Linked DNA regions of Homo sapiens. The protein of the gene in region 1 purifies or fractionates together with the protein of each later gene. This does not show direct contact. Each region holds a gene or a part of one and is shown on either strand. Other genes may lie near its edges.

What was found. Proteins that work in one complex are often made in the same cells at the same time.
Region 2: the proteins of ZNF484 (region 1) and SMARCAD1 purify together in Homo sapiens (affinity purification with mass spectrometry; one large-scale study listed by BioGRID and IntAct). This does not show direct contact.

Annotation. Positions count from the first base shown.
Region 1 is NC_000009.12:92,870,832-92,875,887, forward strand, and holds part of ZNF484 (zinc finger protein 484), read right to left. Parts: intron 4,229-5,056; coding exon of another isoform or gene 4,199-4,228; coding exon 4,184-4,198; intron 1,937-4,183; exon of another isoform or gene 1,856-1,936; intron 1-1,855. UniProt on the Homo sapiens protein: May be involved in transcriptional regulation.
Region 2 is NC_000004.12:94,214,230-94,218,757, reverse strand, and holds part of SMARCAD1 (SWI/SNF-related matrix-associated actin-dependent regulator of chromatin subfamily A containing DEAD/H box 1), read right to left. Parts: intron 1-4,528. UniProt on the Homo sapiens protein: DNA helicase that possesses intrinsic ATP-dependent nucleosome-remodeling activity and is both required for DNA repair and heterochromatin organization.

The DNA.
Region 1 (5,056 bases):
GCCAACCCCAACTAGCAGTAATGAGGTGTCTCTCTCCCCACAGACTGTCAACAGAGTTCAAGTAGGGAACCTGCAAATTCACATCCACCTGGCAGTAGTACAGCAAGGCCCCCCAATTCCCACACTGGCCCAGAGGACGCCTGCTAAAAAAGAGGACTCAAATAAGATCTAGAGTCTCATAATGCCCAAGGTTTCCACAATACATTACAAAATCATTTGTAAAACCAAGAACCAGGAAAATCTCAACTTGAATAAGGAAACAACCAATCAACCGATACTAAAACTGAAGTGATGTATGTTATCAGAATTATTTCATAAGGATTTTAAAGTAGTCCTCATAAAAATGTTTTAACAAGCATATGAACACACTTGAAACAAAAAAACTTCAACAAAGAAATAGAGAAGAGATGAAAAAACCAAATGAAAATTTTAGAATTAAAAAATAACCAATATTAAAAACTCAATAGATGGGCTCAAAAGAATGGAGGCAACAGAAGAAATATTCTGAGTACCTGAAAATAAAGTAGAAATGATCTAATCTAAAGAATGGAGAGAAAACAGACTGAGAAAAAAAGGAACAGAACCTCAGAGACATGTGGGACAATAACAAAAAATCTAACATTTGTGTCATTGGAGTTCCAGAAAGAGAAAAAGAAGAGAAAGGGATGGGGGCTGAACAAGTATTTGAAGAAATAATGAATGAAAATTTCTGAAACTTCCCGAAAGATATACACTTACAGATAGAAGCTGGGCAAATCTCAAAAAGGATAAAACCAAAGAAATTCACACTAAGGAAGAATTATAGTGAAACTTGTGAAAAATACAGACAAAGAAAGAATGCTGAAAGCATTCAGAGAGAAACTACACATTACCCACAGGAGAAAAACAATTTGAATGACAATGTGAGATACTAAGAACCATGGCTCCCCAAAGATGTTCACATCCTAATTCCCAGAAATTGTGAATATGTTAGGTTGCATGGCAAAAGGGAATTCAGGTTTCAGATCAAATCTAGGTGGCTAAATCGGCTGTCCTTAAAATAGGAAGATTAATTATCTTAGATTATCTGGGTGGGCTGAATATAATCACAAATTTGCTTAAAAGTTAAAGCAGGAGGGCCAGGCGCGGTGGCTCATGCCTGTAATCCCAATACTTTGGGAGGGCCAATGCGGGCGGATCGCCTGAGGTTGGGAGTTTGAGACCAGCCTGACCAACATGGAGAAACCCCGTCTCTACTAAAACATACAAAATTAGCAGGGCGTGGTGGCACATGCCTGTAATACCAGCTACTCGGAAAGGTGAGGCAGGAGAATCGCTGGAACCCGGAAGGCGGAGGTTGCAGTGAGCCAAGATCGCGCCATTGCACTACAGCCTGGGCAACAAGAGCAAATCTCTGCCTCAAAAAAAAAAAAAAAAAAAAAAAAAAGTTAAAGCAGAGGCAATAAAAGAGAGTCAGAGAAAGATGCGACTACAAAAGAGTGGTCAGAGAGATACAATGTTGATGGCTTTGAAGTTGGAGGAAAGGGCCACAAACTGAAATGTGAGCACCCACTAGAAGCTAGAAAAGTCAGAAAATAGAAACAGATTCTTTCAGGTTGCGGTGAGCCGAGATCGCGCCATTGCACTCCAGCCTGGGCAACAAGAGCAAATCTCTGCCTCAAAAAAAAAAAAAAAAAAAAAAGTTAAAGGAGAGGCAATAAAAGAGAGTCAGAGAAAGATGAGACTACAAAAGAGTGGTCAGAGAGATACAATGTTGATGGCTTTGAAGTTGGAGGAAAGGGCTACAAATTGTGAAATGTGGGCACCCACTAGAAGCTAGAAAAGTCATAGAAAATAGAAACAGATTCTTTCTTACAGCCTGTAGAAAGGAATACTGCCCTCTTGACACCTTGGTTTTAGTTCAGTGAGACCCATGTTGGCCTTCTAAAATATAGAACTGTAAAAAAAAAAAAGTTATTTTTAAGCAACTAAATTTTTGAATTTATTTCAGCAGCAATAGAAAATTAACATGCAGTTTTAACTAATATCTCATCAGAAACTTTGGAGGCCAGAAGGAAGTAGCACATTTTTCAAGTGCTAAAAAAAAAAACAAAAGAACTATCAACTTAGAATTTTGGATCAGGCAAAAATATCCTTCAGGAGAATGTGGAAATCAAGACATTCTCAGTCCTCCAAAAATTCGTATGTTTAGGCTGTAACCCCTAATGTAACTGTATTTGGAGATAGGGCTTTTAAGAGGTAATTACGGTTAAACAAGGTAGGGGTCCTAATCTGATAAGACAGGTGGCCTTACAGAGAGAGATTCTCTCTCCATAGGCAGGCAGGCAGGCAGGCAGGCGGTCACTAGGGAATGGCCTGTGAGCACATAGTGAGAATCTGGTTTTCGTCTACAAGCCAAGAAGAGAACCCTCATCAGAACCTGACCATACTTGCACCCTGATCTCTCAGTTCCAGCCTCCCAGAACTGTGAGAAAATAAATTTTTGTTGTTTATTCCACCCAGTCTATGGTACTTTGTTATGGCAGCCTGAGCTGACTAAGACAACTACTAACAGCTCTGCACACATAAATTTGACAACTTAGATGAAAGGGACCAGTTCCTGAAAAACACACAAACTACCACAACCCTCTCAATATTAAATAGACAATGTGAATAGCCCTGTAACACTTAAAGAAACTGAGTTTGTAATCTTAAAACTTCCAAAAAAGAAATCTCTAGGCCCAGACAGTTTCTCTGGAGAATTCTACCAAATATTTGAAGAATTAACATAATTAACATAAATTCTACACAGTTTTTTCCAGAAAACAGAAGAGAAGGGCATACTTCCCAGTTTATTGTGTGAGGCTATGATTTCCCTGACACAAAAACTGGACAAAGTATAGAAAAAGAAAACACAAACTATACACAATCTCTGGCAGAATAATCAATACAAAGGAACACATTCCAACTTATTTTATGAGGTCAGGGTTATCGTGATACCTAAACCAGAAATAGTACCAAAAGAAAAAACAGAAAGAGAGACAGAAAGAAAAAAAAAAGCGATATCCTTCATAAATATGATACAAAAACCCTTAACAAAATATTAGCAAATACAAATAATTTAAAAAGTATATACCACAACCAAGTGGAGTTTATTCCATGGATGCAACGCTGGTTCAATATTAAAAAATCAATCAATGTAATCTACCATACCAACAGACTCAAGAAGTAAAATCACATGATCATGTCAATTGGTACAGAAATAGCATTTAACAAAATTCAACTCCCATTCACGATAAAACCTCAAGGTTGTTTCAGAAGGTGGTCCTTGGACAAGGAGCATTGATGTTCTGTGGAAATTTGTGAGAAATAAAAATTCTCATATCCCATCCCATAGCTACTAAATCAGAATCTGAATTCAAATGCAAGTAAAGTGTCAGAAGCACTGTTCTATAAGACAGCAACAGAAAAACTGTTAGTGCACGTTCTTTCTTTCTTTCTTTTTTTTTTTTTTTTTTGAGACAGAGTTTCGCTCTTGTTGCCCAGGCTGGAGTGCAAAGGCGCAATCTCGGCTTACTGCAACCTCTGCCTCCTGGGTTAAAGCAATTCTCCTGCCTCAGCCTCCTGGGTAGCTGGGATTACAGGCGCCCGCCACCACACCTGGCTAATTTTTGTATTTTTAGTGCAGACGGGGTTTCACCTTGTTGGCCAGGTTGGTCTGGAACTCCTGATCTCATGTGATCCACCTGCCTCGACCTCCCAAAGTGCTGGGACTACAGGTGTGAGCCACCGCGCCTGGCCTGTTAGTGCACTTTCAGTAGGGTTGTTGTTGAAGACTGCTCTGTCATTAACCATCTGAAGATCTATCAAAAAATTCCTCAAACATCAAGAACCATGACATCTTTACTACAGATGAAATAAATTACTTGTTAATTTTATTAATATAAACCATGTATCCAATTTCCATTATTGCTATGTCTTTCAGGAAGATCAGAGACAATTTAACAGTTCAAAGTTCATGACTGTGTAAGACCATATATTCTAAACTTGACTTGGGGCTGACAGTCTCTTCTTCATTTTATCTGATCTTAGTTTTTATTTATTTAGTCTTGTCATCTTACTATAGGGATTGTTAGATGTCTCCTAAAATCCACTAAAAGTAAAAGAAAGCAACAAATAAACAGATGAACAAATAAGAACTCACCAGGGACTTGGTCATTTTTGGCTCTTCGGACAAAGGGGCAGAAATCTGAGAAAACAGATGGGTAGAGGTACCCATGAGAGAAGGAACTGTGCCAATGTCACACATGGACACATACATCATTTAGTGCCCTTGCACCTTACTCAAAAATTTATTTCTGGAACTACCACATTAAAATATCATCCCATCCCATATTGTACAAAGATTTAAGTGCAAAAGTTTTACCATAACATGGTTAATAAAAAAGAAAGATTAGAAATGTTTAGATATTCAATAATTGTGGATTGCTTAAATACTTTATAAAATATCCAAAGGATATACTGTTCTATTACGTTATTATACTATCTGATTTCACAGGCCCTTCAAGTTATCATCAACCCTGGTACCTAACTCCTCACTACCACTCTTCAATCTGCTCTAAGTGTCAATTGGTGCCCAGAGACTACTCCCAGAAGCCATTACTGAAACCTCAGATTCACTGATTTCCATGCCTTGCTGCCCCTGAGCCAGGCCTGCATCACTCATCCTACAATACCTGATCACAGAGTCTTCAATTCCTCTACCCTAATGGTCCTGGCTCTCTACCAATCAATCCCACATCCCCATGACTGGCCTCTATGCCTGTATGACTACCGATCATGCATCTCCATCAGCCATCCCAAGAGTCCCAATCCTAGGCACACCTGTTTCTGCACTGGGGCCTTAGCACACATACACATCTCCCACCACTGACACAACTAGGCTATAAGCTCCTCCACATACACAAACAGGAACTCAATCAATGAACAAATCAGGGGAAATTCTTGCATGTATAGAATAAATTTATAAATAGAAAACACTTCTAAATCTAATTGTGAAAAACCAGACTATTTACAG
Region 2 (4,528 bases), on another chromosome or scaffold:
ATACCTTTAGCATCTTAATAAAAGATGAATCAAACTCTCTAATAAATACCCTAGAAAAGACAAACAATACACTAAATATAAGATTAAAGAGTAGTTTCTAATACATCATTCTAAGACAAAATGAGGGAAAAAACCCCATTTCAAATTTAAGTCAAAAGAAAGGGTGAAACATAAAGGAGTCTGGGTGCGGTAATCCCAACACTTTGGGAGGCCAAGGCAGGTGGATCACTTGAGGTCAGGAGTTTGAGACCAGCCTGGGCAACATGGTGAAACCCTGTCTCCACCAAAAATACAAATATTAGCTGGGCGTCGTGATGCATGCCTGTGGTACCAGCTACTCAGGAGGCTGAGTCAGGAGGAGGTCCCAGCTACTCAGGAGCCCAGGAGGTGGGGGTTGCAGTGAGAGAGATCATGCCACTGCACTCCAGTCTGGGGGACAGAGTGACACTCTATCTCAAAAAAAAAATAAAATAAAACAATTAATTAATTAAAACATAAAGGAAAAGAAAGTCATGCAATTAACACTGAACAAGGCAAAAGCGTTAAACCTAAAGGAGGGACTTCTAAATAATAGACTTTATACCTACAATAAAAATATAACTGACATATCCCAACTCCATACTAATAATGAAATGCATAAAAATTGTAGGATATATAAGGCAAAGAGTCAAGAGACAAATATGAAGCATTAACTTTTCTCTATGCTCTTAATAAAGCAAGAGCACAAAAATAAACAAGATGTAGAACAGTGTTTTTCAAACATTTTTGACTGAAACCCACTGTGAGAGACATATTTCAGATTATGATACTAAGCACACAGATTGTTAGATTTGCAAGTGTAACTGAAAGAAAATGTGAGCAGCTCTTACTATAAGCAATACACTTTGATAATTTTCTATTTGTTCTACTCCATTAAAAATTGTAGTTATACATATTTAGTCAGGACCCAAGAAATTGATTTTATGACACAATAAATGTTTATGATCCAGTTTGAAAAACAAAGATATAATAAAACTCATCTATTATTCGACATATAATTAAATCTGTACTTAGATTATGTTTTCTTTCCAAGCACCCTTGAATTTTTACAGAAATTAAATATTAGGCCACAAAGAAAATCTGAGTTAATTTCCCCCAAAGAAGAAATACTACAGACCACATTCTCTGGTCACAAAACAGTGAAATTAGAAGTAAATGTTAACAAAAATATGCAAGCAAAATTTCTGCCAGTTGGAAATTTTTTAAAAAGAGACAAAACCTCATAAAAATGGCTTCTAAACAACTTTCAGGTCAAAGAGAAAACAACAACAACAAAAACACATCAAAATCTAGGATACATCATATATATGACACTATAAAAATTAAAATAATCTGGTAAATTAAGATTAGAGGAACAGATTAACAGACCCAAAGATGCAAACAAACATGGGAATTTTAGACTATAATGATGACATTTTAATGTAAGAAAAAGGATTTTTCAATAAATGAAAAACTGACTAGTAACTGGTGAATAATGAACAAAGGAGAAAACGATATCACCCTTTCTTTAGTCCCTATAATGAAATAAAATTCAGAGGAGATTTAAAGTTAAAAATCAACACGAAACCCAAAGTGAGATACAAACTCATGTCCATTATGTTGGCTATTATCAAAAACACAGGAAATAACAAGGTTGGAGAGGATGTGGAGAAACTGGAACCCACCACACTGTTGGCAGAAATGTAAAATGGTGGAGCACCTATGGAAAACGGTATGGAGGTTCCGCAAAAAATTAAAAATAGAATTACTATATGATCCAGCAATACCACTTCTGGGTATACAACCAAAAGAACTGAAAGCAGGGTTTCAAAGAGAATATTTACACATTCATGTTTACTGCAATACAATTCAAACAGCCAAGATGTGGAGGCAATCCAAGTGCCCATTGATGGATGAATGGATAAACAAAATGTGTATATACACACAGTGAAATATTATTCAGTCTTAAAAAGGAAGGAAATTCTGATATATGCTACAACATGGATGGATCCTGGGGATGTTATGCTAAGTGATGATTCCACTTTAATGAGATACTTAGAATAGTCAAATTCATAAAAAGACAACGTAAACGGTAGTTGCCGGGGGCTGGGGGAATCAGAAATGAGGAGTAGTTGTTCAATGCATAAAGAGTTTCAGTTTCACAAGATGAAAAGAGTGCTGGAGAATAGTTGCATGACAATGTATATGTATTGAACTGAATGTACTGAACTGTACACTTAAAAATGGTTGAGATGGTAAATTTTCTTATGTGTATTTTATCATAATTTTTAAAATTAACAGACATACTAGAGGAAAATATGAATGAGTATATTTATAGTGTGGTAATGCGGAATGCAGAAGACTTAGAGGAAAGGATGAACAAGGTGACCACATAAAAATCTAAAATTTTTCTATGGCAAACAACAAAGGGGGTGCTATGGTCTGTTTGTGCCCCACTCCCCAAAACGGTATGTTGAAATCTTAACCATTATGGTAATGGTATTAGGAGGTGACATTTGCTGGAGGGAGGAAGGGGTATTAGGTGATGGGGGCAGAGCACTCATGAATGGGATTAGTGCCCTTATAAAAGAGGCCCAAGAGACCCCTCACTCATTCAGCCACATGGGGTTAAAAGATTGTGGTCTAGGAATAGGGCCCTGAGATACCTAATCTTGCAGCACCTTGATTTTGGACTTCCCAGCCTCCAGAATTGCCAAGAGTAGATTTCTATTGCTTATAAGCTACCCGGTTCATGGTAGTTACAGCAGTTCTAACAGACTAAGACACGTGGAATTTAAGATATACTTACAAATAATTTATCGGAGAGACATGTATTAGAAAAACAGAAAAGCATAAAGAAACACAAAAAATCCAAATGGCTAGTAAATTTATGAAAACATACTTAAACTAAAAAATAAAGAAAAAGCAACAATAACATACTTTTGCCTATTAGCTTATTAAAGATAATAAAGGTCTGCAATATTTTAGACAGGTATGAAAAAGCAGACATCAAAACCAAGATGTAGTCTGATACAAACTAGTGAAATTTGTGTGTAGGGTGAAGTGACAATGACTAAAATAATATTTCTATCCCCCTCCTCCCCCCCACCCCCCTTTTTGGGACAGAATCTCACTCTGTTGCCCAGGCTGGAATGTAGTGTAGTGATCACAGCTTACCATAACCTCAAACTCCTGGGCTCAATCAATTCTTCTGTCTCAACCTCCCAAGTGGCTAGGACTACAGGTGCACACCACCACACCTGACTAATTTTTTCATTTTTTGTAGAGACAGGGTCTCACTACATTGCCCAAGCTGGTCTTGAACTCCTGGTCTCAAGCAATCCTCCTGCCTCGGCCTCCCAAAGTGCTGCGACTCTACAGGCATGAGCCACTGTGCCCAGCCAAATACATGCACATTTAAAATGCACTTAAGATTCCTACTTACTTTTGAGTACTTATTGTACTTTCTGTTACAACAATTCAGCACTAACCCTTTAACTAAGTATTGCTTTTCAATTAACATTAACAGACATTAAGAAACCACAATGACTATCTACAGGTTTAACGATGGCTCACATTTTGGCCACAGACACCTACAAAAAGACTGAGTATTGCGCAATGGTCACGGAATTATGAAGCTAAAATGATACATTCAGTATCATCATTCAAAGGATAATAACCATTTTAATGTGGGCAAGGAATACAGAAAACTAAGCAAAGCCAGGAGAAGACTGTAAGACCCAAACAGTTGACTTTTTACTCAAGATCATACAATCTGTATGTGGCAGAGCAATACTCTCAGGAAATCTTTCTGACGACTGGTATAGTTTTAAAAATGTCTCTCACTTATCAACAAGTGCTACTTTCAATATGACAACCACCTTGAAAAGGCAACCACTCTAGAGGACTAAATCTATTTCAGCAAAAAAAAAAAAATTCATCAAACATATACTAAAACTTTCCTCCATTCCGCCAATGCCAAAATAATCTATGAACCCATCTATTTTTATCTCCTTCAATTATCCCCCCCAGGGAAAATATGTCTTTATTCTTTTGCACAGTTAAACAGTCCAACTGTTCTTCAGTTCTCATCACTTGATGCCTCTCTTCAGATACCTCCCTCCCTCAGTCCTTCCCTCTCCACTAGCTTCTTGTCCTTGGTTAACAAACGCTTGGCCAGGTGCGGTGGCTCATGCCTGTAATCCCAGCACTTTAGGAGGCCGAGGCGGGCAGATCTCAAGTCAGGAGATTGAGACCATCCTGGCTAATACGGTGAAACCGGGTCTCTACTAAAAATACAAAAAAAAAAAATTAGCCCGGCGTGGTGGCGGGCACCTGTAGTCCCAGCTACTCAGGAGGCTGAAGCAGAAGAATGGCATGAACCCGAGAGCAGAGATTGCAGTGAGTTGAGATTGCGCCACTGCACTCCAGCCTGGGTGACAGAGTGAAACTGTCTCAAAAAAAAAAAAAAAAACAAAAGAACGCTCAATTTTCAATAATCCTGAAACAT